Linked DNA regions of Homo sapiens: regions 1, 2, 3 and 5 are each linked to region 4. Evidence: fine-mapped expression QTL. A gene starts in region 4. Each other region holds a variant in brackets. All regions are shown on one strand. Distances are between the middles of the regions.

What was found. PIP is the estimated chance that this variant, and not a neighbour inherited with it, causes the effect.
Region 1: its variant is fine-mapped to the expression of MARK4 in monocytes (BLUEPRINT, PIP 0.95).
Region 2: its variant is fine-mapped to the expression of MARK4 in skeletal muscle (GTEx, PIP 0.93).
Region 3: its variant is fine-mapped to the expression of MARK4 in whole blood (TOPMed, PIP above 0.99).
Region 5: its variant is fine-mapped to the expression of MARK4 in whole blood (TOPMed, PIP above 0.99).

What each region holds. Positions count from the first base shown.
Region 1 is chr19:45,210,850-45,216,787 of GRCh38, forward strand. It overlaps EXOC3L2 (exocyst complex component 3 like 2), which reads right to left. Exons shown (of 12, transcript NM_001382422.1): 11 at 5,224-5,345; 12 at 1,521-2,508. The coding sequence ends at 2,220. It also overlaps a transcript of BLOC1S3 not described here. Among named protein-coding and RNA genes, the nearest start is that of EXOC3L2, 32 kb to the right of the region's middle. RefSeq lists an enhancer at 5,063-5,597. The variant G/C (reference allele first, on the strand shown) is at 2,571.
Region 2 is chr19:45,304,044-45,309,981 of GRCh38, forward strand. MARK4 (microtubule affinity regulating kinase 4) reads left to right here. Exons shown (of 17, transcript NM_001199867.2): 17 at 1-1,241. CKM (creatine kinase, M-type) reads right to left here. Exons shown (of 8, transcript NM_001824.5): 6 at 4,366-4,489; 7 at 3,418-3,607; 8 at 2,370-2,885. The coding sequence ends at 2,707. Among named protein-coding and RNA genes, the nearest start is that of CKM, 16 kb to the right of the region's middle. RefSeq lists a silencer at 4,487-4,644. The variant A/G (reference allele first, on the strand shown) is at 2,734.
Region 3 is chr19:45,293,764-45,299,701 of GRCh38, forward strand. MARK4 (microtubule affinity regulating kinase 4) reads left to right here. Exons shown (of 17, transcript NM_001199867.2): 14 at 586-689; 15 at 3,913-4,191. Among named protein-coding and RNA genes, the nearest start is that of CKM, 26 kb to the right of the region's middle. The variant G/C (reference allele first, on the strand shown) is at 2,683.
Region 4 is chr19:45,247,558-45,253,495 of GRCh38, forward strand. MARK4 (microtubule affinity regulating kinase 4) reads left to right here and starts at 3,714. Exons shown (of 17, transcript NM_001199867.2): 1 at 3,714-4,082. The coding sequence starts at 4,032. RefSeq lists silencers at 3,389-3,768, 3,999-4,148 and an enhancer at 4,622-5,178.
Region 5 is chr19:45,281,469-45,287,406 of GRCh38, forward strand. All of the region lies in intron 12 of MARK4 (microtubule affinity regulating kinase 4), which reads left to right. Among named protein-coding and RNA genes, the nearest start is that of MARK4, 33 kb to the left of the region's middle. The variant G/A (reference allele first, on the strand shown) is at 2,276.

The DNA of each region.
Region 1 (5,938 bases), 37 kb before region 4:
GGCAGTGGCTCACGCCTGTAATCCCAGCACTTTGGGAGGATGAGGCAGGAGGATGGCTTGAGGCCAACCTGGTCAACATAGTGAGACTCTGTCTTTACAAAACAAATAAAATATTAGCTGGGTGTGCTGGCACGAGCCTGTAGTCCCAGCTACTCAGAAGGCTGAGGTGGGAGGATCACTTGGGCTAGGAGGTAGAGGCTGCAGTGAGCTATGATCGTGTCATTGCACTCCAGCCTGGGCAACAGAGCAAAGACCCTGTCTCTAAAAAATAAATAATAAATGTCTATGGACTGCACAATATTGTTGATTCCTCAACTCCTCTCTTGCTCTTTTGCATATTGGCAACATAAAAAGTGTCATTTTCGGGCTGGGCACAGTGGCTCATGCCTGTCATCCCAGCACTTTGGGAGGCTGAGGCGGGTAGATCACTTGAGGTCAGGAGTTGGAGACCAGCCTGGCCAACATGGTGAAGCCCCGTCTCTACTAAAAATACAAAAATTAGCTGGGTATGGTGGTGGTGGAGGGGGGGCACCTGTAATCCCAGCTACTCAGGAGCCTGAGGCAGGAGAATAAATTGCTTGAACCTGGGAGGTGGAGGTTGCAGTGAGCTGAGATCGCGCCATTGCACTCTAGCCTGGGCGACAGAATGAGACTCTGACTGAAAAAAAAAAAAAAAAGAAAATGTCATTTTCAGAGGGCAAAGTGAGGAAGGTGCACCCTCAGGACATTCTTGCCTCAGCCTGGGGAAAGAGAGTTTAAGCAATTCCCCCAGAAAGGCACAGGAACCTCAGCCCAGAGAGGGGCAGCTTCCTGCCTCGGGTCAGGAAGCACAGCCTTGGGCTCCGAGAGTCCCTCGTCTCTACCTCCCCAAGTTCAAATGTGCATGCGTGAAGTTCCAAACCCAGCCCCAGTGCTAACCCCTGGCTGCCTCCTCTTTCTGACTTCTCAGGGAAAAAAAAAAAAACCACATACACACAAAAAATCCCACAAGTCAGGAAACATCCATCACGGGCTGTCCAGCCCAGGCCGGAGGGGCAGGAGTCAGCAGGGAGGTGACCTCAAGGTCTCCGTGGGGACTAGGATCCGGCGGGGCTGGGGGTGAGAGGCTGGAAATTTTCCCACCCCGAGACTTTCCTGCGTCAACCCAGGAGGGCGCCCTGGATGCCGCCAGCCCTGCCCCCAACCTCCTTCCTCTCCTGACAGGGCAGCTTCCCGGCTAAGGATGGATGGGGAGGGTGTGCCAAGATGGAGCCACCAGGACCAGGAATGGACAGGCACTTTGAGATTGACCAGACGAGGGACCCTGGCTCAGAGTGGCGAAGGCCTGGCCTCAGAGCCACACAGCCAGGAGGTGTACATGGGTTGGCGTCGCTCCCAGCACATGCAGCCTCCCTCTACCTCCACTACCCTGCCCAGGAGCTGGAGCCCAGCCCGGCCTTGGGTGTGTGAGAAGCCACTGGCCCGGGGCCCTGCTTCCCCGGTCCTTCCTCCCCACAACACACTCAGGACTCAGCCCTTCCTTGTGTTAAATAGAAACCTCTTTATTCTAAGTATCGAACGTTCCTTAATACATTGGATTGGGGCCAGACCTTGAGGTGAGGGAAAGGGGCGGGGGAGCTGGGATATTTCTGTAGAGACTTCCAGAACGACACTCACCACTCTGGGCTATGGCAGGAGGGGAGGTGCTGGGAACAGGCTTCATGGCCTTGGGAAAATGCTTTGTCTCTTTGGCCTCTGTTTCCCCCTACCTTTTTTTTTTTTTTTTTTTTTTGAGAAAGGGTCTTGCTTTGTTGACCAGGCTGGAGTGCAGTGGCACAGTCATAGCTCACTGCAGCCTCGAACTCCAGTGATCCTCCAGCCTCAGCCTCACCAGTAGCTGGGACTACAGGCACACACCACCGTGCCCAGCTAATTTTTTATTTTTTGTAGAGATAGGGGGCAGGTCTCACTATGTTGCCCAGGCTGGTCTTGAACTCCTGGGCTCAAGCAATCCTCCGGCCTCAGCCTCCCAAAGTGTTGGGATTACAGGCATGAGCCACCGTGCCTGGCGTTTGTTTCCCTTCTGTACAGGGAGTTTGGGGTTGGGTGAAAAGACATCTAAGGGTCTTTCTATCCCAGGGGTGTGTGGTCCCAGGCAGGGAGTCAGGAGGGGCGCCGTACGGGAGGTTGGCTTGTCAGCAGCATAGATGGGGTCACTAAGGCCGGCGGTTGGGTGACCCTCAGCGCTGGGCCCGAGGTCGCGCTAGAGACGGAGGCCGGGGCCGAGGCAGACAGGCCAAACTGGGCCTGGCCAGCCGGGAGAGGGGGAGGCGGCCCAGGAAGAGAGGGAGGCTGAGACAGAAAGATGGGCGGGGCACAGGGATGTCTGCAAAGAAGGCACGGTCCCGAGGGGGTGACAGGGCTCCCTCCTCAGAGAGTTCCAGGTCCCGGGCCACGGCCAGGATCTCCTGGCGGGCGGCTGTGTTGCGCAGGCCACGGATGTCGAGGAGGGCTGCCACGTGCTTCTGCCTGTGGGGAGAGGAACAGACAGGTGCATGCAGATCCCCAGCTCTAGACACACACCCAACCCA[G/C]CCGTGGACCCCACCTGACCCCCTCACCTATCCCAGAAATTGCCTGAGTTCTGGGGCCTCTGTGTCCCCTCCAGAGCCTTCCCTCCAATCAGCTCCCTTGCCCAGGCCCTCACCTCATACCAGCTCCCTCCAGAACTTCACTTCCAACCATCTCCAAATCCCCCTTACAACCAACCCCAGAACCAGCCCTGGGATCTTCCTTTTCACCCCAAGCCTCAGCTCGTGATTAAAATTCACCTTCTCAGCTGGGTGCCGTGGCTCATGCCTGTAATCCCAGCACTTTGGGGGGCCAAGGCAGGCGGATCACCTGAGGTCAGGAGTTCGAGACCAGCCTGGCCAACATGGCGAAACCCTCTCTCTACTAAAAATACATTAAAAAAAAAAAAAAGCTGGGTGTGGTGGCAGGCGCTTGTAATCCTAGCTACTCAGGAGTCTGAGGCAAGAGAATCCCTTAAACCTGGGAGGCAGAGGTTGCAGTGAGCTGAGATCGCGCCACTGCAGTCCAGCCTGGGTGACACAGCGAGACTCCATTTCAAAAGTAAAAAAAAGAAAGAAACCTTGTACCCCACTCCCCCTAAATCCTCAGCCCTAGGTACCTCCTAATCTCAAGCTCAACCCCCTAAACCCAACCCAGCTAGCAAACTCTTAAACTTAGCTACAGATTCAAGTTCTGACTCATGATCCAATATTCAAGTTCAGAAACTCCACATCAGCAAGAATACTGGGACTTCTTGGGACCCCATGGGACTCCAGGAATATGTGCCTTCCCAAGGACATGACCTTATCCCCCAGAATCAGAACTGACCACCCTGAATCAATTCCAGGACCCCCACCCTCAGTGCTGAAACTGAAACCCGCTCATGCCTCACTCCTTGTTTTTCTGGGGTTCTGTTTCTCTGAGTATGTCTGAGAATGTGTCTGCCCAAATAGCACTGCAAGGACTGGCGTTGCTCCGGCAGCCACCACCACTGCCACCACCATCCAGCACTGTCACATGGTGGTGTGGTGTGCTGATCTGGTACACTAGTTTTTTTGTGTGTTTGTTTGTTTGTTTGTTTGTTTTGAGACAGAGTCTTGCTCTGTTGGCCAGGCTGGAGTGCAGTGGCGCGATCTCAGCTCACTGCAACCTCCGCCTCCTGGGCTCAAGCAATTCTCCTGCCTCAGCCTCCCGAGTAGCTGGGATTACAGGAGTGTGCCATCACACCTGGCTAATTTTTGTATTTTTAGTAGAGACGGTGTTTCACCATGTTGGCCAGGCTGGTCTCGAACTCCTGACCTCAGGTGATCCACCTACCTCGGCCTCCCAAAGTGCTGGGATTACAAGCGTGAGCCACCATGCCCGGCCGATCTGGTGTACTAGTTTTAGAGCCAGTCTACTGCCTGGGTTCAAGTTCCACCTTTGCCACTTGCTAGGCGTGATATTTCAATAGCTTTAATTATACCCCTTACTTATAGGCCAAGCGCAGTGGCTCACGCCTGTAATCTCAGCACTTTGGGAGGCAGAGGCAGGCGGATCACCTGAAGTCAGGAGCTCAAGACCAGTGTGGTCAACTTGGTGAAATCCCATCTCTACTAAAAATACAAAAATTAGCCGGGCGTGGTGGCACATGCCTATACTTGGGAGGCTGAGGCACAATAATCTCTTGAACCCGGGAGGCAGAGGTTGCAGTGAGCTGAGATCACTGCACTTCAGCCTGGGCGACAAAGTGAGACTCTGTCTCAAAAAACAAAACAAAACAAACAACAACAAAATACCCCTTATAAAGTTGGCATGGGCTGGGCAACGGTGGCTCACACTTCCCCATTCGTGGGAAGCCGAGGCAGGCAGATCACTTGAGCCCAGAAGTTCGAGACCAGCCTGGGCAACATGGTGAAACCCATCTCTGCAAAAAATACAAAAAATTAGCTGGGCATTGTGGTGCATGCCTGTGGTCCCAGCTACTCAGAAGGCTGAGGTGGGAGGGCTGCTTGAGCCCAGGAGGTCAAGGCTGCAGTGAACCGTGATTGTGCCACTGCACTCCAGCCAGGGAAACAGAGTGAGACCCTGTCTCAAAAAAAAAAGAAAAAAAGTTGGCATGTAAGATGCTTATTTAGGTCTGAAATAAGAACTCATTGAGTGAGAACTGGAATTGTTACTATAGTCATGGATGATGATGATGATGATGATGATGATAAATTTCCCTAATAACCCTATGACGAGAATACTACTATCCCCATGGAACGGATGAGGAAACTGAGGCTCCGAGAAGGTCACCTACAAAGGAAGTGACCTGGCAGGAGTTGAATGCCGCCTGCGCCTGCCGCTGTCCCAGTGCGTGTGCGCCCGTGTGCCCTGCGTGTCCCTGAGTCCCCTGCGGCTCCCCTGCGGGCTGGCCCTTCCTGCCTCCAGGCAGCCCTGCGCCCCCCTGCCCTGGGCTTCCTGTGACCGCCTGTTTGTTTGTGAGCCCTGGTGGCGGTGGCGGCGGAGGCAGCAGCGGCGGCAGGAGAAGGAGGGAAATCTTATTAATAATGCCCTGGTTCCAGCAGGAAACGGCCGTCAGACACGCTCACCGGCTCCCTCCCTCAGGAGGCAGGAAGCACAGGGACGGATGCCAAGGCCGCCAGGAGACCTCGGCCAGGCACGGCGAGCCCTGGCCCAGGCGGGGTGTCTCACCTGATGTCTGGGTAGTCGCGCACCAACACTCCCACCTCCACCTGGATGCTGGGCGTGTCTTCCAGCTGCATGACTTCAGCCAAATGGGGCACCACGGCATCCAGCCACGAGGCCTGGGACTCCTGCAGGGGAGGGAGGGTGCGGGGTCACACCCTCCCAAGATTGACCCTGCCAATTCCTGCCCCTCCTGGCTTGTTATACCATCTCTAAAATGTAGCAGAAACCAGGGGTGGTGGCTCAAGCCTGTAATCCCAGCACTTTGGGAGGAGGCCGAGGCGGGTGGATCACTAGAGGTCAGGACATCGAGACCAACCTGGCCAGTATGGTGAAACCCCATCTCTACTAAAAATACAAAAATTAGCCAGGCGTGGTGGTGCACACCTGTAATCCCAACTACTCAGGAGGCTGAAGCAGGAGAATCACTTGAAATCGAGAGGCAGAGGTTACAGTGAGCGGAGACTGCACCACTGCACTCCAGCCTGGGTGACGGAGCGAGACTCTGTCTCAAAAATAAAGAATAAAAATAAAAATAAAAAATAAAATGTAGCAGAAGACATACTATGGCCACATTTGAGAAAAATCCATAATATAATCTCCTCCCAGTTTTGCAGGTAATTTGGAACTCTGGGAAACATCTCCAAACCTCTTCCACGTCTGCAAAATCTTGCCTTTGCGGGGATGGAGACTGGACAAAGTGTACAAGGAAGCTCCCTGC
Region 2 (5,938 bases), 56 kb after region 4:
AGCAAAAAGGTATTTGTTGGTTTATGTTACTTAATAGTCCAGGGGCACCTGGCTTCAGGTAGGTTTGATCCAGGCATCAGGCCATTGCATCTATTTTTTCAGTGTAAGTTGAATTCTAGTAATTTTTATCAAGTAAGGGCTCCTTTCCTGGTGGCACAGATGACTTCAGCAGTTAGAAGTTTCTATCCCTCCAGCTTTCTGCAGCAGAAAGACCCTCATTGTCAGTTTCCCAGCAAAAGTCCCAGGGCAGACTCTCATTGGCCCAAATGGGCCATGTGATTTTCTCTAAACCAATCACTGTGACTCTAGAGTGGCCAGACTCAGAGCTGCACTTAGTAGGGGTTCCTCAAAGGAAGGTCAAGTGTCATGAGCAGGAGAAAAGGCATGGGAGCTGGACAGATTATAGTGGTTGAAGTCTGTGCAGTACAGAAGGGCGGAGCTTATTCACACAGCACCTTTGGGGCCAAAATGAATAAGCTGGACTTTCTCCCCATGGCACTGGGGAACCATGGAAGTTCAGGGAACTTCAGGGAAGAGGCTTGGTCAATTCCTGAGAGCATCCTCTGTGCTGGGGACACAGTGGTAATCAAGACAGCCCCAACACTGCCCTCATAGAGCTCACAGTCCAATGGAGGAGGCAGATGTGTCCTCAGGCAGCGACTGGGCAGGGCTGGTATAGGGGAGTCCAGAGGTGATGCCTGCCTCAGCCAGGGAGGGCTTCCTGGAGGAGAAGGAGCCAGCTAGACATGGATAGGAGTGCGTTTTAGGCACAGCAAATGGCACATACAAGGGCCAGGGAGCAAGAGAGAGGACAGGTCCTCAACAAATGGCATGTGACTTTGTAAGTGTAGAATTGCTGTGAGGTATGGGGCTAGGGGCGTCAGTAGGGCCTTGAAGGTTATGGACAGGGGCCTGGGCTTTCTTCCAAGGGCACTGGGGGAGCCATGGCAAGGTTGTAGGTAGGGTAGAGATGGGCGGGTTTGTGCTATGTGCAGGGTGGAAGGGAGGGAAGTTGACAGGTCAGAAGATCAGGAAAGAGGTCGGGGCTGGACAGATGGGGAGAGCGCAGATAGATTTAAGAGAGTCCTGTGAGGCAAAGTGGGCAGGACCTGGTAACAGGTGTCTGGACTGTGGCTTTGGCTGGCTCAGAAGGTCCCCACTGGCGTGTGTGGTCTATGTAGCCTCTGGGTGTGGAGCTGGGATCTTCAACTGGGGACAGTACAGTAAAGAACATCACAGCATCTCACAGGTTCTGCATACCTTAATGTTTAGAATCTCTCCTAACCTTCCTTGTAGTAATCTCCCTGGGAACTTTTGGGGACATCCCTAGGCCTCAATTTCCCCTCTGTAAAACAGAGGGCAGATTGAACTACAAGGGCCCTTAATCTCTGTGACTCTTGAGGTTTGAAAAAGCACCTTAGGTTCCTGAGGGCTTTGTCGGTTCTTCCATTTACTCCCACCTCACTTTTTTTTTTCCCTAAAACGTTTGTCTTTTGGGGCCCACCGACTGTGTCCTTGTTAACGTAGACATTGGCCTGTTTGACTGGGTGGAGGTGATTGACGTGCCCAACACCCAATGCATGTTCAGCTACTGCTTGACTTCTATTAACTCTTCTCCCTCCACCAATTGCTCTACCACACCTCTTTCCTGTTCCTTCCTGGGACTGAGTTCTCCAAAAGGCCTATCCCTAAAGACTTCATGGGGATGCTCAGACTCACAGATTGGAGAGGGAAACAGCTTGGTCAAAGACATTGAGGTGGGAATTGGAGGGTGTCAGGTGTGAAAGAATCAGAGGAGTAATGGGGAAAGAACTGGAAAGGTGAGCCTCCAGCAAATGGTATGCATTTCAGTGTGGCCTTGAGTTGCAAAATAACAGAAAAGCTTTCTAGGAGAAATGGGGAGCCATGGCAGGTTCTTGAGAAAGTAAGGGACTGGCAGCAGCTACAGAGGGATGAAGTCAGACGGGACAGAAGGAGGCCACTGAGAAGCAGAATATAGGTAGATGTGACGAGCTGCATGGGAGGTCTCAAAACTGGAGACCGTTGGGCTAAATTCAAGTTTCAGACATTTCGTTTGGCTGCATTCCTCCCCAGCGTGGACCTCGTGTTTGAGATCTGAGCATGACTAATTCAAAGCCATAGTTGGAAAGGGCCCATGCTTTGGGTGAGTGACACTGGGCTCAGTGTCTCTCTGGGTCTCAGATTCCCCATAGAGCCTTCTAATTTTTGGACTAGATTCTGTGACCTAACTTTGCCTCATTTTAGACCCGGGATAAGACATGTTTAGTACATGCCTAGACAGGACAAACCACTCTGAGACCACACAGTGGCCAATTGCACGTCCTCCCTCAATAACTATCGCACAAAGCTAAGGCCACCAATGCTTTTATTTATCGCTTTGCGTGGAGACAAAGCACAAGCTCCGAGTGTGCTGGGAGCTCTCCATTAACTAGAGCTCCTGGTTGGGGTGGAGCTCTGGGAAAAGAAGAGGACCCTGCCAGGGAGATATTTCATTGGCCAGAATCCAGAGGATGGAGCCCATTGGTTGGAACTCTGGTTGAAACTGGAACTCTGAGAAGGGTGGAGAGAGCCCCCAGGTGGGACTCTGGGACAGGGGGCGGGGCGAGGAGTGAGGGAGCAGGACTCTGGTGGGCCAGGCCCTCCCACTGGCTGGGTTCCAGCAGTCGGTGGCAGGTGGGCAGGCGCCTACTTCTGGGCGGGGATCATGTCGTC[A/G]ATGGACTGGCCTTTCTCCAACTTCTTCTCCATTTCCACCATGAGCTTCACACCATCCACCACCAGCTGCACCTGTTCTACTTCGGACGAGCCCAGCCGATCAGCGTTGGACACGTCAAATACTGAGCCCACGGCAGCTGTGTCCACGCCACCTGTGGGAGCAAGGGACAGGGGCGTGAAGAGGCAGCGAAGGTGCAGAGGGGCTGGGACGTGGCCCCCGTGCCAAATGCAACAGCCGCATGTAGTGAGTGCCTACTGTGTAACAGGTTACCTGCACACAGGTAATGCCTGTTCATTCGTGAGCTCACGAGTCTCTGACTTCAGATGGGGTACCACGCCACTCAGTTATCAAACATAGTATAGTGGGTAAGAGAGTGGGTTCTGGAGCCAGGCGGCCTAGGGTCGAATCCTGACCACTCCTCGCTTTATAAATGGGGAAACTGAGGCCCCGAGGGAGGTCCAAGGGCATGTGCAATGCATATTATATAATCATGAAAATCCCACATTGACTCCTATCACATAGGCATATTGACACCCATTTTACAGAGGAAGAAATGCAAGCTCACAGAGGGTCAGCCCTTGCCGGATCCCCAGAACTCGCAGGGATGTCGCACCTCTCCTTGCATCCCTGCAAAGGGCCCTCGCTCCCCCTCCGTCGTGGTGCAAAGGATGTGGGAGCCGTACCTGTACCCCTCTTCTGCAGACGCAGGCGGGTGAGGATCTCCTCGAACTTGGGGTGCTTGCTCAGGTGCGCCAGCTTCACATGCACGCCTCCACGCAGCCCAGTGCCCAGGTTGGATGGGCAGGTGAGCACGTAGCCCAGGTGCTGGTTCCACATGAAGGGGTGGCCAGCTTTCTTAAAGATCTCCTCAATCTGAGGTTCAGAGAGAGGACCAGGGGTCAGCGCCGGCAGGCACCCCCAAATGCACCCGCAACATGGACAGGGTCCGGAGGGACAGGGCGTGGGAACGTGGTGGAGGTGGGATTCTGAGGGGAACAGGGAGGTAGGAGATTCCGAGGGTGCTGGCTAGACAATGGGGACCAAGGCAGGATTTTGAGGGGCGGGGACTAAGAACGCTTTGAAGGCGGGTTTTTTTTTTTTTTTTTTCCAGAGTCTCTCTGTGTCACCCAGGCTGGAGTGCAATGGCGTGATCTCGTCTCACTGCAACCTCTGCCTCCCAGGTTCAAGCGATTCTCCTGCCTCAGCCTCCCGAGTAGCTGGGACTACAGGCGCGCGCCACTACGCCTGGATAATTTATTTATTTATTAATTTTTTAGTATAGAGACGGGGTTTCACCATGTTGGCCAGGCTGGTCTTGAACTCCTGACCCTCCTCAGCCTCCCAAAGTGCTGGGATTACAGGCGTGAGCCACCGCTCCCGGCCTGAAGGCGGATCCTTACGGGCGGGGCTTGGGCATAGGGTGGAGCTGGGTCCAGGGGCGGGGCCCTGAAAAGCGGGTGGGGCTAGTTTTGGGGGGCGGGGTTTGGCATGGGGTGGAGCCAGGTCCGGGGGGCAGGGCCCTGGAAAATGGGTGGGGCAGGGCTTAGTATAGGGGAAGGGGCGGGGCCTCGGAAAGCAGGTGGGGCGTTCAAGGTGGAGTCAGAAGTCAGCAGCTAAGGGCAGACACCCACCTTCTGCAGCCCTACGCAGAAGCGGCGGAAAACCTCCTTCATGTTGCCCCCCTTCTCCATGGAGATGACCCGGAGGTGATCCTCCTCGTTCACCCACACCAGGAAGCTCTTGTTGTCATTGTGCCTAGAGTAAGGTGCCGCAGCAAGAGGCCAAGGTGTCAGCCCCGTGGGAACCCCATTCCCAGCCCTCCCCCAAAACATCTGCCCACCGATGGGGGAAGAGGGCCTGAGGGGTGGGAGGTGGGTGGCATCTGCCTCCTCAAAACGCAGAAGCTTAAACCTGTAGACTCTAATGTCACAGGATCTGCAAAACGCTGAATCCTGGGATCAAGGACTTTTAGGGACTTAAGTCTTTGAACAGTATTATTATAGATCCTTGGGATCTCAGGATGTTTGACAAACAGAAGCTTGGGATCAGAACTGATAACACTTGGTAATCCTACATCTGGTTTCAGGACCAGAAAATCTTCCCATCGTAGTGTGTTAGCTCCCAATCCTAGCATCTCAGAAGCAGGATCTTAGAACATAAAATATTAAGGCTGGGTGCGGTGGCTCACGCCTGTAATCCCAGCACTTTGGGAGGCCGAGGCGGGCGGATCACAAGGTCAGGAGATCGACACCATCCTGGCTAACACGTCGAAACCCTGTCTCTACTAAAAAATACAAAAAAAAATCTGGGCATGGTGGCGGGCATCTGTAGTCCCAGCTACTCAGGAGGCTGAGGCAAGAGAATGGCGAGAACCCGGGAGGTGGAGCTTGCAGTGAGTCGAGATCGCGCCACTGCACTCCAGCCTGGGCAACAGAGCGAGACTCCATCTCAAAAAAAAAAAAAAAAAAGAACATAAAATATTAAGATCCGGAAATGGCCGGGTGTGGTGGCTCATGCCTGTAATCCCAGCACTTTGGGAGGCCAAGGCCGGAGGATTGCTTGAGCCCAGGAGTTCAAGACTACCCTGGGCAACATGGCAAGACCCACATATCTACAAAATTTAAAAAATTAGCAGGCATGGTGGGACACATGCCTGTAGTCCAAGCCACTGGGGAGGCTGAGGCGGGAGGATCACTTGACCTTGGAAGGTCCAGGCTGCAGCGAGCTATGATCCCACCACTGCACTCCAGCCTGGGCAACAGAGCAAGACCCTGTCTCAAAAAAAAAAAAAAAAAAACCTGAGGGCAGGCATGGTGGCTCACGCTTGTAATCCCAGCACTTTGGGAGGCTGAGGTGGGCGGATCACTTAAGGTGAAGAGTTCGAGACCAGCCTGAGCAACATGGCAGAACGCTGTCTCTACCAAAAATACGAAAACTAGCTGGGCACAGTGGCACATGCCTGTCGTCCTAGCTACTAAGGAGGCGGAGGGTGAGAGGATCGTTTGAACCCGGGAGATGGAGGTTTCAGTGAGTCGAGATCAACCCACTGCACTCCAGCCTGGGCCTCAGAGTGAGAGTCCATCTCAAAATAAATAAATAAATAAATGAGTGGAATCTTAAAACCTAAAAATATTTAAAATCTTGAAATCTTAGAATCATCCCATCTGTATATCTTAGCACCCAGGCTCCCTTCATCGATTGAAA
Region 3 (5,938 bases), 46 kb after region 4:
ATGAGAACAGACATTGACAGCACAGTGATTGAAGCTGCAGTGGGGAGCCCAGGGGCCTGTGGGAACCCAAAGGAGGAGGCACGTGACTCAGCCTGGGGCCGGGGGTGGTGGTAGATTATGAACTGACACCTGAAAGATATGTAGGAGTGAGTCAGGGGAAAAGGTAGGAGTAATGTTCTAACAGGTGAGACAGCCAGTGCACAGGCTAGTCACAGTGACAGAATGTGGCATGAATAAGTACATTAGCAAACGTTTGGTGTGGCTGGGCTGGACCTCAAGAAGGTGGGCATTGCTGGGAGAAGAGCGGTGGACAAGGATGCCCCCTGGAAACCTTCCCTGCCTCGTTTTCCCTCAGTGCCCCCCTCTTCTCCGGTCTCCAGGGGTCTCCCCTGACTCAGCCTCGGTGGCTGGGATTACTCATGAACCTTTCACATCTTTGGGACCTTTCACCATCTCCTACTCACCCTGGGTTCCCACATGAGCCCCTGACTTATTCATCGATGGGGAGGGCAGAGAAGGGAAGAGGGAGAAGCTCAGGGGCATGTCTTCACCCCCTCACTCCCTTCCTGGCTGTGTCTCCTGCAGAACAACCTCCCTCCTAGCATGATGACCCGCAGAAACACCTACGTTTGCACAGAACGCCCGGGGGCTGAGCGCCCGTCACTGTTGCCAAATGGGAAAGAAAACAGGTACGGAGGGGGCAGCAACAGGGTGAGGGGTGGGAAGTAGGGGGTAGGTGAACAGGACCTCCCTTGATCTGAGATGATAGGCATTGGAGGCTGGTGCCATGGGGACCAGAGAGTGAGTGTATCTGCCCTGCCCTTGGCAGAATCGACCCATGTACCCCCCTGAAAATCCTCCCCACTTAATTAATTAGTCTTAAGCACCAGGAAAGCAGTTGGCCCTGTTCTCCGCCTACAAGCCTTGGGAACCTGAATTGATTTTTTGAATGATCCATTTTTAGAACTCGAGAGAAGCCCCAGAATGTCACAGCTTCAGCGTCATCTGGTTGGCTGGTTTTCCGGCTTGTTGGCCTGAGTCTGTGAGGTCTCTTCCAGCTGGCAAGGGAGGGAAACCAGTTCAGACTGGCTGGAGCAGAGAGAGGGAAGGGATTGGTTCACATCACAGGTCAAGGCCAGCTAGAATGGGGCCAGCTCCAGGATGAGGACACTGCCCCCCACCAGGGCTGTAGGGCAGGTTGATGGCCAACACCAGGGCACACTCTGGGATGCACCTGATTAGTGGGTGCAGGTGTTCCCACTGGGTGTGGGCAGAGGAATGGGGTAGTTAACAGTCACAAATCTGTCCAGGCACAGTGGCTCATGCCTGTAATACCAGCACTTTGGGAGGCTGAGGCAGGTGGATCAAGAAGTCAGGAGATCGAGACCATCCTGGCTAACATGGTGACACCCCGTCTCTACTAAAAATACCAAAAAAAAAAAAAAATTAGCTGGGTGCAGTGGTGGGCACCTGTAGTCCCAGCTACTCTGGAGGCAGAGGCAGGACAATGGCGTGAACCTGGAAGGCGGAGTTTGCAGTGAGCCGAGATCACGCCACTGCACTCCAGCCTGGGCAACAGAGCGAGACTCCATCTCAAAAAAAAAAAGTCACGATTCTGTGAATACTCAGTTCTGAGTTCGAATCTTACCTCTGTGCTCACACTGCTAGCAGAATGACCGGGTAAATCCCTGTGCCTCTGTTTCCTCCTCGGTAAAATGGGCTTGATGCTGGCCGGGCATGGTGGCTCACACCTGTAATCCCAGCACTTTGTGAGGCCGAGGTGGGCAGATCACCTGAGGTCAGGAGTTCGAGACCAGCCTGGCCAACATGATGAAACCCTGTCTCTACTAAAAATACAAAAATTAGCCAGGAACGATGTCATGTGCATGTAATCCCAGCTACTCAGAAGGCTGAATGAGGCAGGAGAATCGCTTGAACCTGGGAGGCAGAGGTTGCAGTGAGCTGGGATTGCGCCACTGTACTCCAGCCTGAGCCACACAGCAAGAATCCGTCTCATAAAAAAAAGGGCTGATGCTGTCCACTTCCAGGCCCCATTATAGAGATGCAGTAGAGATCAGGTGTGTCCTGTACCTGGCACTGGGTCTGATGCTTAGGAGGCCTTCATTCAGTGACTTGAGAGTGCTTTTTTTTGGTGGTTATCAAATAACAATAGTGAACATTCATGAAGCAGCAGCTACATGCCAGGCTTCTATGTCTATTGCCTGGCTCAGTGCCCCTAACAACTCTGTGAGGTAGATCCTAATATCTCCATTTTACAGCTGAGGACATAAGGCACAGAGAGGTTAAGTAACTTATCCAAGGCCACACAGCTGGTAAGTCAAGAAGCAGATTCCAGACTTGACTCCAGAATCTTATTTGTAATCACTGTAGTACATGGCCTTCCAGTTCTGCTCAAGAGATAGTGGAACAGTTAAATTACAGACTCAGACAAAAAAAATCAAAAATTAAAAAAAAATTTAAAAACAACAAAAAATAAAAAGTATAGACTCAGCTAGCTGCTGTAATAAAAACAAAGAGATCCCAGGGTAGAGTAATTTAAATAAAAAGGACGTTTAGTCCGGAGGGTCCTCCAAGGACCCAGGTAAGTTCTTCCAGCCCCAAAATGAGTTTCCAGCTCTGGGACTGAGGCCGCTGCACCAGCAGCCATCATTTCCCAATCAG[G/C]AAGAAGTGGGGAAAGAGTAGGGGACAAGCAACAACTCTTTGTAAAGGCGTCACCCAGAGATGGTACAGAGCACTTCTGCTTATATCCCATTGGCCGGAGCATGGTCACATAACCATCTCTAGCTGCAAGAGAGTCTGGGAAATGTAGTCTCTGGCTGGGTGGCCATGTGCAGTGCTCATACTCTTAGGGGTTTGGTTACCAAGAACGAAACAGGGAGGATGGATTCTAAGGGAGAAGTAACAGCCTCTGCCACAATCAGGATTCTTCTCTGAGATCCAGGCTGGGCCTGGAGTCCCTGGGAGGATAGAAATTGGAGGTCTGGGCTGGGCGCAGTGGCTCACACCTGGAATCCCAGCACTTTGGGAGGCCAAGGCCAGTGGATCACCTGAGGTGAGGAGTTTGAGACCAGCCTGGCCAACATGGTGAAACCCCATCTCTCCTGAAAATACATAAACTACCCAGGCGTGGTGCTGCATGCCTATAGTCCCAGCTACTCAGGAGGCTGAGGCAGGAGAATCACTTGAACCCAGGAGGCAGAGGTTGCAGTAGCCAAGATTGCCCCATGGCCCTTCAGCCTAGGTGACAGAGTGAGACTCTGTCTCAAAAAAAAAAAAAAAAAAAATTAGCCAGGCATGGTGGCACACGCTTGTAATCCCAGCTACTCAGGAGGGTGAGGCAGGAGAATTGAACTCAGGAGATGGAGGTCTGGCCCCTGCTGTCGACTAGGAGGGTCCGAGGGGCTGGAGGAGGGTCCTGGGACAGTGGAACCCCCACTGCCCAGATTACCATAGTGAATACAGGTATCCTTGACCTTTACATCTATCCCTTTCCTGATTTTAGATGGTGAGAGTTCAGATAGCAAAGTGTTTGCCAAGTTGATTTGGTTCCTGAGGTTTCGGCAAATAGCAAGGAAGTCACCCAAAAATGTCTGTGCATCTATTCAGTTGCTGCGTTTAGAGAGAGGAGAGTTGTGATAGGAGATGATTTGGAGCGGGTAGAGTTTGAAGAAGGGACAGTTTGAAGGAGGGGTAATAGGAGAGGAGAGAGTCAGTAAAATAATGCTAGGATTGTATAGTGCACAGCCTGCACAACTGTACGTTGCAGCCCTGTCTCTGAGTTCCAGGCTGGTTGCAGTCCCTGGTCTCAGGACAGGAATGTGAAGAATCAAAGGGACTGGGGCCCTGGCCTGCCTCAGTCCCCCACCCTGACTTGTCTGTCTCTGCCCACAGCTCAGGCACCCCACGGGTGCCCCCTGCCTCCCCCTCCAGTCACAGCCTGGCACCCCCATCAGGGGAGCGGAGCCGCCTGGCACGTGGTTCCACCATCCGCAGCACCTTCCATGGTGGCCAGGTCCGGGACCGGCGGGCAGGGGGTGGGGGTGGTGGGGGTGTGCAGAATGGGCCCCCTGCCTCTCCCACACTGGCCCATGAGGCTGCACCCCTGCCCGCCGGGCGGCCCCGCCCCACCACCAACCTCTTCACCAAGCTGACCTCCAAACTGACCCGAAGGTGAGCTCCGCGGGGATGGCAGGGGCAGGGCGGGGCGGGGGGCCGATGGGACCTAACCTGTCTTCCACTCTGCTCTGTCTCCTGTACCCCAACATTTCCTCTTCCTCCTCCTCCTCCTCCTCGTTTCCTCCTCCTCCTCCTCCTTTCCTCCTCCCCTGTCACCCCTCACCTCCCTCCTCACACTGCAGGGTTACCCTCGATCCCTCTAAACGGCAGAACTCTAACCGCTGTGTTTCGGGCGCCTCTCTGCCCCAGGGATCCAAGATCAGTAAGTCCCGTCCATGCCCTGTTCTCGCTGGCTCTGCCTCCCTGCCTGCATGTCTGACCTGTGTGTGCGGGCATTGGGAGGGGGCTCTGTGGATGTGAGGGTCTGTGCGTGGGGTCTGGTTGTTCATTTACTCACAGAAGCACAGCCTATGGAGCCAGACTCGGGGGTTCAAATGGCAGCTCTGCCAAGTGACCTTGAGCAAGTCACTCAAGGTCTCTGGGCCTGGTTTTCCTCTTCTGTAAAATGGGTATAGTAATAACAATACCTGTCTCCTAGGGTTATTGTGAGGACTAAATGAAGTGACGTATGGACTGAGCGTAGAACATTGCCTTGGAAAGTGCTTTACATGTGTATTAGTTATTAATTGCTATTATTCATTGAGCCCCTACTGTGTGCCTGGCACTGTCCTAGGCCCTGTAGTAGAGGGTGAGCAAAATGTACAAAACTCCTGCCCTGGCAGACCCAACATTCTACTAAGGGATCTAGACAAAAAACAAAGAAATAAGTAAAATATACTTACTATATAGACTGCTAGGTAGTGCGAAGTAACTAAGAAGAAAAATAGAGTAGGAGCCAAATTTGGTGGCTTATGCTTGTAATCACAGCACTTTGGGAGGCTGAGGCGAGGGGATCACTTGAGCCCAGAAGTTCAAGACCAGCCTGGACAACGTAGCAAGATCCTATCTCTACAAAAAAGTAAATAAATTGGCCGGGCGTGGTGACTGCACCTGTATTCCCATGGAATTGGGAGGCCGAGGCAGGAGGATCACTTGAACGCAGGAGGTCAAGGCTGCTGTGAGCTATGATCATCAGTCTTGGCAACAGAGGGAGAACCTGTCTCTAAAAAAAAAAAAAAAAAAAAAAAAAATTGAACAGGGAGGGGAATAAGGGGTGTGGGGAAGGGATGGGGTGCAGCATTAAATGGGCAGGCCTCTGGATGAGGTGGCTCAGGCCAGCAATCCCAGCACTTTGGACAGATGACTTGAGTCCAGGAGTTTGAGACCAGCCTGGGCAATGTGGCAAAGCCCCATCTCTACAAAACAAAACAAAAAACAAAAAGCAGATGTGGCACGCGCCTGTAGTCCCAGCTACTTCAGGGGCCAAGGCAGGAAGATTGCTTGAGCCTGGGAGGTTGAGGCTGCAGCGAGCTGAGATCACGCCACTCCTGCATGACAGAGTGAGACTCTGTCTCAAAAAAAGAAAAAAGGGCAGGCCTCACGAAGGAGGTGTTGTTTGAGCAAAGCATGAATGTATATGTGAGCGAGGGAGTGTGTGTGTGTGCACACGTGCGTGTGTCTCTCTCTTTCTCTCTGTGGCCACTTATCTATGTAAGGGTGTGTCTCTGCCCACTCCCCTCCCTTTCATCTTCCACATTCTTCAGTATCTTTCCTGTGACCTGCACTAACCATTTCAGAATGAGCCCCGTTATGGGGATGGACAAGGAGATCAAATCCTGACTCCAGGCCCTCACCAGCCCGG
Region 4 (5,938 bases):
CCATCATGTACTGGGATCGTGCAGGATTTCCACCCCGCCTTATTTATTTATTTATTTATTTATTTATTTAGAGACGGAGTCTTGCTCTGTCGCCAGGCTGGAGTGCAGTGGCGTGATCTCTGCTCACTGCAACCTCCGCCTCCTGGGTTCAAGCAATTCTTCTGCCTCAGCCTCCCGAGTAGCTGGGACGCAGGCGCTTGCCACCTGCAAGCGCCCGGCTAATTTTTTGTATTTTTTTTAGTAGAGACAGGTTTTCACTGTGTTAGCCAGGATGATCTCGATCTCCTGACCTCGTGATCTGCCCGCCTCGGCCTCCCAAAGGGCTGGGATTACAGGCGTGAGCCACCGTGCCCGTCCCCCTCCTTTTTAAAAATTATTTTTTTTATTTTGATTTAGAGACAGGGTCTCACTATGTTGCCCAGGCTGGTCTCGAACTCCTGGGCTCAAGTGATCCTCCCGTTCTGGCCTCCCAAAGTACGGGGATTACAGGTGTGAGTCACCGCGTCCAGCCCCCTTTTTAAATTTTATTATTATTTTTTATTGAAATACAATTCACATACATAAGAGTCACCCTTTTCAAACAGAGTCCGGTAGGTTTTAGTATATTCACAAGGTTGCAGCAAGCGTCACCACTATTTAATTCCAGAACATTCTCATCACCCCAAAAAGAAACCTGGTACCCATCAGCAGTCATTTCTCATTCCCCAGCCTCCAACCCCTGGCAACCATTAATCTACTTTCTGTCTATGGATTTGCCAATTCTGAATATTTCATATGAATGGAAGCATACAGTAAGTGGTCTTTTGCGTCTGACTTCTTTCGCTAAACATGCTGTTTTCTTTTTTTCTTTTTTGAGACGGATTCTCACTCTGCCGCCCAGGCTGGAGTGCAGTGGCGCGATCTCAGCTCACTGCCAGCTCCGCTTCCCGGGTTCACGCCATTCTCCTGCCTCAGCCTCCTGAGTAGCTGGGACTACAGGCGCCCGCCACCGCGCCCGGCTAATTTTTTGTATTTTTAGTAGAGACGGGGTTTCACCGTGGTCTCGATCTCCTGACCTCGTGATCCGCCCGCCTCGGCCTCCCAAAGTGCTGGGATTACAGGCGTGAGCCACCGCGCCCGGCCACATGCTGTTTTCAAGGTTCATCCACTTTGCAGCCTCCCTCTCTGTAAGCCTCGGTCCCCCCACATCTGGGAAATGGGGTGGGGACGCTGTTGGGGAAGGGAGGGCAGGGGTGGACCCTGGAGTGTGTGGGGCGCGTGTAGGGAGGTGATCGGCTGCCCCCGTGTGGTGCACGGTAGAACTGCAGCTCTCAGCGCCAATGCAGGGAACGGGTTGGGGGCGCTCAGCCCCTCTAGCCTACCCCCAAGACCCCCACTTTCACCCTGCGGCGTCCCTGGGATCACAGTACGTCTAGAACACTACCCCGGAACTCCACCCTCTCTGCCACTGTCCCTGAGGCTCCTCGGGCCATATTTGCCAAATAGTAATAATAATGTCCCCACATATGAATTTTGAATCTGGTCCCCTGTGAAGCACTTTACTCAAAGATTCTCATTTATTTGTTAGCAGTAACATTAAAATAACAAATAAATATAAACAAATTGACAAATAAAAATAGTAGCAGCCTGAGGTTGCTGCTATTATTTTTCGGAGACAGGAAACCACAGTGGTTGAGAGAGGGTCCAAGTTCTGGAACTTGGGAGCACTTGGATTCAAATTGTAGCCCTGCCACTAATTTGCCGTGTGACCTTCAGCGTGTGACGTTTCTCCCTTCCTTGGGCCTCTGTTTCCTCATCTGCAAATGGGATTGATAAAGATGCTCCCTACCTCTTGGGGTGGCAGAAAGGAGAAACTGCTCAGAGCCTGGCACAAGGGCAACTGCCATGAGTCTGTGTTGCTCATAGTATCAAGCAGTGCTGTGCTTTCACAACCAGCTTTTGGCTGAGTGCAGGGTAGTCCCAGCACTTTAGGAGGCCGAAGTGGGAGGATCGCCTGAGCCTGAGAGTTGGAGATCAGCCTGGGCAATATGGCTACAAAAAATTAGCTGGGCGTGGTGGTGCACACCTGTAGTCCCAGTGACTTGGTGGGGCTGAGCTGGGAGGATTGCTTGAGCCGGGGATGTCCAGGCTGCGGTGAGCCATAATCGTGCCACTGCACTCTAGCCTGGGTAATGCAGTGAGACCCTGTCTCAAAAACAAAACAAAGCAAAGCAAAACAAAACACCCCCAGCTCTCTGCAGGTGGGGGTGTGGAGCCTTAATTTGTAGCATTTGCCAATTTCCATGGTGTAAATATTCCCACCATGGCTAATTTCAAGCTACCAAGGTGATATCACATGGCATTTTTGCCCCCCATTATATAGTAATTTTACTGTGCAGCTACAATAGACGTAGGTAACCTCAAGATCACAGATAATGGCAAATGTAGTAAGATAACTAGGACGTGATGAGTATGTATTACTTGTACCTTTAATGTAATTTAATTGTATGTTTGCATAATTTAATTTTTAATAATGGCTGTGTTTAACAACCAGTTCCAAAATTCCTGAGACATAACAATCAGCTCGCTCCAGCCAGATCCAGCACACTGCTGTTTTAGAAGGGGAAACTGAGGCTCAGGAAAATAAGCCTCAGATAGAAGAAGGCAGGGCACAGACCCCTTCCCAAAACCATGTGACTCCCAGGCCAAGACTATGTAATGCCTGTCTTTCTTTCATCCCACCCTGGTCCACAGAGCATGGATGGTCCCCACAGCGCTGTGTGGCCTCCGAGAGGCTCTTGTCCTCTCTGGTCTCAGCCTGCCCGCATGGGGAGTGGCTGTGCCCTGCAGGCGAATACCTGCACAGGGTTCCTTCGCACCTGCCAGTGAGCAACACACGGATTCTTCCTTTCACTTTACAAACTGGGAAAGTGAAGCCCAGAAAGGGCAAGTGCTTGCCCCGGGTCATACAGGTGGACAGAGAGGGTCCCCACACCCCAGCTGGGGTGCAAAGGAGTGGATGCTGCAGCCCCAACCTGCGGGTCTGGATCTATGTGGCTGAGTGGAGGCAGCCTGACTAGGGAGGTCACTGAGCCCTCAGCAGTGGCCAAGCCCCGCACACCATCCCCTTCACCCACCCCACCCTTAGGCCTCCGAGGGGAGAGCTTCCCCCGCTCCCCCCCGCCAACTGGGGAGAGAATGGGCCAGGGGGAGGGACAATGTGGGCAGCGCCTCTGGGGTCTTCTCTGGCTCAGTCCCTTTATCTCTATCTCTTCACAGATCTCTGCGTCTCTGTATCTCTTTGTCTCTCCCTGTGTGTGTGTGGGGTCTCTCTCAGTCTTTGTCCCTCTGCGTCTCTGGGTCTCTCTGTCTCTGTCTCCCTGCGTCTCTCTCTCTCTGTCATCTGGCTCTTCCTTCATCTCCTTGCGCCTCTCCACCCTTTTGTAACTCGTCTCTCTCTCTTCGTGTCTCTCTATCTCTACGTCTCTCGATCTCTCTCTCTGCGTCTCTGGCGCTCTGCCCCGGCCTCTCTCTCCCCTTCTCTCCTCTCCAGTGCGCCTCTCGTCTCGGGCGAGAACACGCTCCCCGCCGGCGTGCCCAGACCCGCCTCCGCCCCCGGAGCCCCCGGAGCCCCCGGCGCCCCGACCAGCCCGGGCCTGCGCCTTTAAGGGCCGGCGGCGGGGGGCGGGGTCCCGGCGCCCCGCCCTGCCCGCCCCTCCCCCTGACGTCCCTTCCTCCCTCCCCAGCCCCTCCACCGCCTCCCTCCGCCGCCGCTTGGGCCGGCTCCGCGCCCCCTCCGCGGCCCCCGCCCGCCCGCCTGCCCGCCGCCCCCATGGCGCCCGGGGTCCCCGCTGCACGGGGCCACTAGGACCCTCGGCGTCCCTTCCCCTCCCCCGCCCTGCCCCCTCTCCCGCCGCGCGGACCCGGGCGTTCTCGGCGCCCAGCTTTTGAGCTCGCGTCCCCAGGCCGGCGGGGGGGGAGGGGAAGAGAGGGGACCCTGGGACCCCCGCCCCCCCCACCCGGCCGCCCCTGCCCCCCGGGACCCGGAGAAGATGTCTTCGCGGACGGTGCTGGCCCCGGGCAACGATCGGAACTCGGACACGGTGAGTGGGGCCCGGCCCCTTGGGGAGCCCTGGCTGGGTCCAGCCGCCAAACCCTTCTCCCCGTTGTACCCCTCGCCCCGCGAGCCCCTACCCTCGTTTCCTGGGCCCGACCCGGCTCGTCACCTCTCGACCCCTCCCGGACTTCCAGGCCTCTCCACCCTCCCCACCTTTTCCAGCCCAGCCCGACCCCTGGGGGCGCCCCTCTCTCGGGACCCCTCTCTTGTCCCCGTGCAGACCGCTTCCGCTCGGGTCTGTTCCCTCCAGGAAGCCCCTTCCCCTGCTTCCAGGAGCCCCTCCCTTCTCTTGCCTGTGCTAAGCCGTTTCCCCTCCAGGCCGTCCGCGTCCGACACCTCGCCCCCTCCCGGATTTGCAGGGCCCCTGACCCCCCAAGGCCCGGCCCTGGCACTCTCAGCAGGGCCTGGCCCAGTCCTGCCTCTGGCTCCGGCCTTCCCTGTCTGGGGCTGGGTGCCGGCTCCCCAGGAGCCCCCCTCCTCTTATTCCCAGCCCTCTGCCCCTCCAGGACGCACCCAGGGCGCCTGTGGGCAGCCCCTGGCAGGAAGCTGGTTTCCACCTCTCCTGGGCCCCGGCCCTTTTCTGGCTTCTTCAAGGTCTCTCCCGTCCCAGGCCTGGTCCCCATCTTCCAAGCAGCCCTGTCCCTAGATCCCAGCACCCCGGGGCCCCCAGATGCCACCTGGACCCTTTCTGGTCTCTTCCTCTCCCAGGAAGCCTTGGCCTCCAACTTCTAGGCCCTCACCTCACCCAGGCTGGTATTTCTAGGCCCTGGACCAGTCTGACTCCAGGCCTCATCCGCCCTCTATCAACTTCTCAGCTTCAGGCAGCCCCTTCCCCAACCCCCAACCTCTGGACCCCCTGCTAGGCCAAACTCAGACCCCTTCCCCACAAACCACCGTCCTTTCTCCTGCCCCAGGGCCTCCCCCTTCCTTGCTGGGAGTCTGGCCTTCCAAGGAAGCCCCCTCCTCAGCTTCAGAGGCCTTCCTCAGCTACAGGGCCTGGCCCCAGATCCTTCTTCCAGAAAACTCCTGGACCTGAAGCCTCTCGTCTTGCCCTGGTTTCAAGCCCTTTTCCCTTGGGTCAATCTGCTGGAAGCTTTCTCCCCAAATTTCTAGACCCCTTGACCTTCCCCAGGGCTCAGCCTTTATTCATCTGGGCTGCTCCTTGCCCAAGAAGTTCCTACCCCATACTTCCAGGCCCCCCAGACCCTTCTCTGGTTTCAAGGACTTCTCCTAGAAGCCCCCTTCTCTGATTCCTAGGAGCTTCCCCAAGACCCAGGGATTCCTGGCCTCTGACTTCCACTGCCCCCATGGCTTTGTCACTTTCCACCATTCCCAGGCGCCCCCTGCCCCTACACTGCTTCCCAGAGAGGCCCCTCCCCATCTCCTGTGTCTCTGATCACTGATCACTTCCAAAGACCTGCCCACCACCCAATCCTAGACTTCTCCCCACCTGGGATCTTTGTGGCTTTCTCCAAATCCTTCTGCCAGGTCCCTGTTCCCCTTCCCCCTGTTTCCCTCACCTCCGACAGACCCCCCCACACACACACACCATCAGAGAGATTTATATCTGTCCCTTCCTCATCTTGCAGATCCCTCCCTCACAGAGACCACCCCGCATCATCACTATGGGCCAGAACTCCAATTTGGAGTCTAATGAAATGCCTACCACCTCTGTTCCTTGGTCACTACAATCTACAGTGAGGTGCCAGGGGCTCCACAGTCCTGGGTTCCAATGCTGACATGGCCAGCTGGTTTGCCTTGTGTCCTCAGACAACCAGTTCTCCCTTTCTGAGCCTCAGTTTCCTGCCCTGGAAAATAGGGGTGACCGCTTGAGTGCCTCCA
Region 5 (5,938 bases), 34 kb after region 4:
TTGTGCCTCAGCCTCCTGAGTAGCCGGGATTACAGGCACCTGCCACCACACCTGGCTAATTTTTGTATTTTTAGTAGAGACAGGGTTTCACCATGTTGGCCAGGCTGCTCTTATACTCCTGACCTCATGATCCACCCACCTCAGCCTCCCAAGGTACTGGGATTACAGGTGTGAGCCACTGCACCCAGCCCCCAATTTCTTACCTTAGAGACCAGTCCAAATGGCAGCTGGAATCTCTGGTCCAGGATGAAGCTCTGATATCAGAGTCAAGTTTGAATTAATCCATTGTAACTGGGGCACAGGAGGACACGTTGTACAAAGTGGCTGCTGAGAGTCTGCCCTCTGGCTTTGCCTCCACACTGAAGTAAAGGAGGCTCTGGAAGAGAGCTGGGCGGACAGCTGATTATACCCCACATTCTGCAACTGACAGACATCTCATCTGCTGCAGAAAATGAATACAGAGTCTGAGTTTAAATCTGGGCCAGGCACGGTGGCTCATGTCTGTAATCCCTTGGGAGGCCGAGGTGAGTGGATCACCTGAGGTTGGGAGTTTGAGACCGGCCTGGCCAACATGGTGAAACCCTGTCTCTACTAAAAACACAAAATTAGCTGGGCGTGTTGGTGCGTGCCTATAATCCCAGCTACTCGGGAGGCTGAAGCAGGAGAATTGCTTGAAACTGGGAGGCGGAGGTTGCAGTGAGCCGAGATCATGCCATTGCACACCAGCCTGGGCAACAGAGAGACCTCATCTCAAAAAAATTAAAAAAAAAAAAAAAAGGATACACACCACCATCAGCACCCATTAGGCATGGAGACTTCTGAGAGGTCCCTTCACCCACACACTCATCAAATTTTAACCCTCTCTTCTATTTTTTTTAACGGCTTTATTAAGGTTAAAATTCATATACCAAACAACGTACCCATTTAAAGTGCACAATTCAGGCCGGGCATGGTGGCTCACGCCTGTAATCCCAGCACTTTGGGAGGCTGAGGGCAGGAGGATTGCTTGAGCCCAGGAGTTCTAGACCAGCCTAGGCAACATAGCAAGACCCCGTCTCTACAAAAAAATTAAAAATTGGCCAGGCACAGCGGCTCACGCCTGTAATCCCAGCACTTTAGGAAGCCGAGGTGGGAGGATCACGAGGTCAGGAGTTCAAGACCAGCCTGGCCAAGATGGTGAAACCCTGTCTCTACTAAAAATACAAAAAAAGCCAGGCATGGTGGCGGGCACCTGTAATCCCAGCTACTCGGGAGGCTGAGGCAGAGAATTGCTTGAACCTGGGAGGTGGAGGTTGCAGTGAGCCGAGATCACGCCACTGCACTCCAGCCTGGGCCACAGAGCGAGACTCCGCCACCCCGCCCCCTAAAAAATTAAAAATTAGGTGTGGTAGTACACGCCTGTGGTCCCAGCTACTTGGGAGGCTGAGGTAGGAAGACCACTTGAACCCAGGAGATCGAGGTCGTGGTGAGCCGTGATCGCGCCACTGTACTCCAGCCTGGGTTACAGAGCGAGACCTCATCTCAAAAAATAAATTAAAAAGTGCACAATTCAGTGGCTTTAATATATTTATAGAGTTGTACATCTATCATGATGACCGATTTCAGAACATTTTCATTACCCCAAAAAGAAAATTCACAACTTTTAGCAATCAACTTCCAGGCAGGGCATGGTGGCTCATGCCCGTAATCCTAGCACTTTGGGAGACTGAGGCAGGCAGATCACCTGAGCGCAGGAGTTCGAGACCACTGGGCAACATGGCGAAACCCCATCTCCACTATAAAATACAAAAATTAGCCGGGCGTAGTGGCAGGCGTCTGTAATCCCAGCTACTCAGGAGTCTGAGGCAGGAGAATTGCTTGAACCTGGGAGGCGGAGGTTGCAGTAAGCTGAGATCGCGCCACTACACTCTAGCCTGGGCGATAAGAGTGAGACTTCCTCTCAAAAAAAAAAAAAAAAAAAAAAAAAAATCAACTTCCAATCCCCCTTCCACCCTCAGCTACTAATCTACTTTCTATGTCGATGAATTTGGCTATTCTAGACATTTCAGGTAAATGGAATTACACGATGTGTGGCCTTCAGTGACTGGCTTCTTTCATTTAGCAGAAAGTTTTCAAGGTTCATCCATGATATGGGTATCAGCACTTCATTCCTTTTCATTGGCAAGTAATATTCCATTGCATAGATAGACCACATTTTGTTTATCCATTCATGAACACGTGGATTGCCTCCACTTTTTGGCTGTTGTGAATGATGCTGCTGTGAACATTTGTATCC[G/A]TGTTTTTGTGTGGCTGTGTTTTGCCGTCATTTCTCTTGGGTACGTATCTGGGAGTGGAATTGCTGAGTCATCTGGTAACTGTGTGTTTAATAATAGTTTGAGGAACTTTCAGGGTGTTTTCCAACTCTGTTCGTTTTACAGCCCTGCTTGTCTGCAGGGGTGAAGTTCTTACTCTGGGACAGGTACTAGGCTGTCTGCTTGTCTAATCTTTTTTTTCTCTGTCTTACATATCTCACCTTATCTTTTTCTAGATCTCTCAGCTCCTAGATTTCTTCTTTTTTTTCTTTTTTTGAGACAGAGTCTCACTCTGTCGCCCAGGCTGGAGTACAGTGGTGCGATGGTGGCTCACTGAAACCTCAGTCTCCCAGGTTCAACTGATTCTCCTGCCTCAGGCCCCCGAGCTGGAATTACAAGCCACCTTGCCCAGCTAATTTTGTATTTTTAGTAGAGACAGGGTTTCACCGTGTTGGCCTGGCTGGTCTTGAATTCCTGACCTGAGGTGATCCACCCGCCTCGGCCTCCCAAAGTGCTGGGATTGCAGGCGTGAGCCACTGTGCCCAGCCACTCCTAGATTTCTTTTCTTTTTTTTTTTTTTGGAGGCAAAGTCTCGCTCCGTTGCCCAAGCTGGAGTGCAGTGGCGCAATCTTGGCTCACTGCAAGCTCCACCTCCCGGGTTCATGCCATTCTCCTGCCTCAGCCTCCCGAGTAGCTGGGACTATAGGTGTCCACCACCACGCCCAGCTAATTTTTTGTATTTTTAGTAGAGATGGGGTTTCACTGTGTTAGCCAGGATGGTCTTGATCGCCTGACCTCATGATCCACCTGCTTTGGCTTTGGCTTCCCAAAGTGCTGGGATTACAGGCATGAGCCACCGCGCCTGGCCCGCTCCTAGATTTCTTACATCTCAGTTTTAGAATCCAGCCCAGGGCTGAGTGCAGTGGCTTACGCCTGTAATCCCAGCACTTTGGGAGGCTGAATTGGGTGGATCACTTGAGCTCTCAAGTTCGACACCAGCCTGGGCAACATGATGAAACCTCATCTCTACAGAAAAATACAAAAATTAGGCTGGGCGCAGTGGCTCTTGCCTTGTAATCCCAGCACTTTGGGAGGCCGAGCTGGGTGGATCACCTGAGGTCAGCAGTTTGAGAGCAGCCTGGCCAACATGGTGAAACCCTGTCTCTACTAAAAATATCAAAATTAGCCGGGTGTGGTGGTGAGCACCTGTAATCTCAGCTACTTGGGAGGCTGAGGCAGGAGAATTGCTGGAACCCGGGAGGCAGAGGTTGCAGTGAGCCGAGATTGTGCCATTGCACTTCAGCCTGGGCGGCAACAGCAAGACTCTGTCTCAAAAACAAAACAAAACAATTAGCTGGGCATGGTGGTGTGCACCTGTAATCCCAGCTACTTGAGAGGCTGAGGTGGGAGGATGGTTTGAGCCTGGGAGGCCGAGGTTGCAATGAGTCCAGATCGTGCCACTGCACTCCAGCCTGGGCGATAGAGCCAGACTGCCGTGTCTCAAAAAAAAAAAAAAAAAAAAAAAAGAATCCAGCCCAAGTGTTAGCTAGAATCTCCTTGGTCCACTCATCAGGATCAGGATGGAGCTCTGATATCGAGTCCAGTTGGGATTAATCTGCTGTAATGGGGGCACAGGAGGACACATTGCACAAAGTGGCTGCTGAAAGCCTGCGCTCTGACCTCCCCTCCACACTGAAGTGAGGGAGGAGAGAGGTGTCAGGGAATCTGAGACCCAGCATGAGCCCCACACGGGAAGTGGTGCTTCTGCCCTACCCCCACCATTGCTGGAGGTCAAACCATTCCCTGCCCCTGCGTCTTGTCTTTCCCACCTGTAAAATGACAGGGCGTGCCCAGAAAGTTCCTAAGGAGCTTGTGACTTTGGTATCATATGGTTAGAACGTGGTAACCTTCAGAACTCCCCACACTGAGACCTGAGTTCCAGGGATTCTCAGAGAGGGATTGCTGGCAGGTGCCAGGTATCTGTCATTGTCATTGTAGAGCTCTCAGCTTGTGGTTCTGGGACTTCTGAGCATGTATCGCTCCTGAGGATGTAACAAGCAGACCTTCTGACCCTCTCAAGTTTGAGATCACTTTTCACCCCCGGGTTCTAAAACAGTAGATTCCTAAGATGTTCCTAGAGACCAGAATTATTTTGTGTTGCTTTTGAAATTGTTCATACAATAACATCCTTGAAAATGTGTTAGTTTGGAAAGGATAGACAGTGAAAAAGTCTTCATCCAACACATATCCCCAGCTCCCAGTTTCTCAAATGCAGCAACTGTTACGGTTTTTTGTTGTTGTTTTTGTTTTGTTTTTTGACGGAGTCTCGCACTGTTGCCAGACTGGAGTGCAATGGTGTGATCTCTGCTCACTGCAACCTCTGCCTCCCAGGTTCAAGCGATTCTCCTGCCTCAGCCTTCCAAGTAGCTGGGATTACAGGTGCATGCCACCATGCCCAGCTAATTTTTGTATTTTTAGTAGAGACAGGGTTTTGCCATGTTAGCCAGGCTGGTCTCAATCTCCTGACCTTGTGATCCACCCGCCTTAGCCTCCCAAAGTGCTGGGATTACAGGCGTGAGCCACCGCGCCTGGCCCTGTTATGGGTTTTAATATGAATTCCTTTGGAGAGATTTTATTCATAAACAAACATGTAAAGAGATAAATATGGGACCGGGTGCGGTGGCTCACGCCTGTAATCCCAGCACTTTGGGAGGCCAAGGTGGGAGGATCGCTGGAGTCCAGGAGTTTGAGACCAGCCTAGACAACATGGCGAAATCCTGTCTCTACAAAAAAAAATACAAAAATTAGGTGGGCATGGTAGTGTGTGCCTGTAGTCCCAGCTACTTGGGAGGCTGAAGTGGGAGGATGGCTTGAGCCTAGGAGGCCAAGGTTGCAGCAAGCTGAGGTCACACCACTGTACTTCAGCTTGGGCAACAGAGTGAGATCCTGTCTCAATAAAAAAATTAAAAAAAAGAAGGAAACTTAAGATATATAAAAACAATAAATTCTCCCCTTTTGAAACAAGTTATAGTCCTTTGGAGATATTCATATATAAGCAAGTAGATATAGATACACACTTTTTTGCTTTTGTAGACAAATGATAACACATTGTTGACCCATCTCTTGTCTTGCCTTTTCTACTTTCCAGTCCGTCATGAAGATCATTCTGTACTGGTGCATAAAGTGCTTCCTTATTCTTTTTTATAGCTGCATAATTTTCCACTGTGGAAATACCTTGACTTATCTAGTCATTCCTCTACTAAGGGGCATTTAGGCTGTTCCCAGTCTAATGGTACAGGCCAGGTGGGGTGGCACACACCTGTAATTCCAGCTACTTGGGAGGCTGAGGCAGGAGAATTGCTTGAACCCAGGAGGTGGAGGTTGCAGTGAGCGGAGATCGCACCACTGCACTCCAGCCTGGCAACAGAACCAGACTTTGTCTCAAAAAAAAAAAAAAAAAAAAGAAGGTGCAATGAATGGCCTGTATGTGCATGATGTCATTGATTTGGAGTTTCTAAGTCAGTATATGTGCGTTGGTAATCTTGAGGTAATTTTGACAGATATTGTCAGAATGGCCCACACAGAGATTGCAACCCACGTGAGGAATTCTCAGGTTCCAACGATCCCCCAGAGTCAGTTCTGGGTTT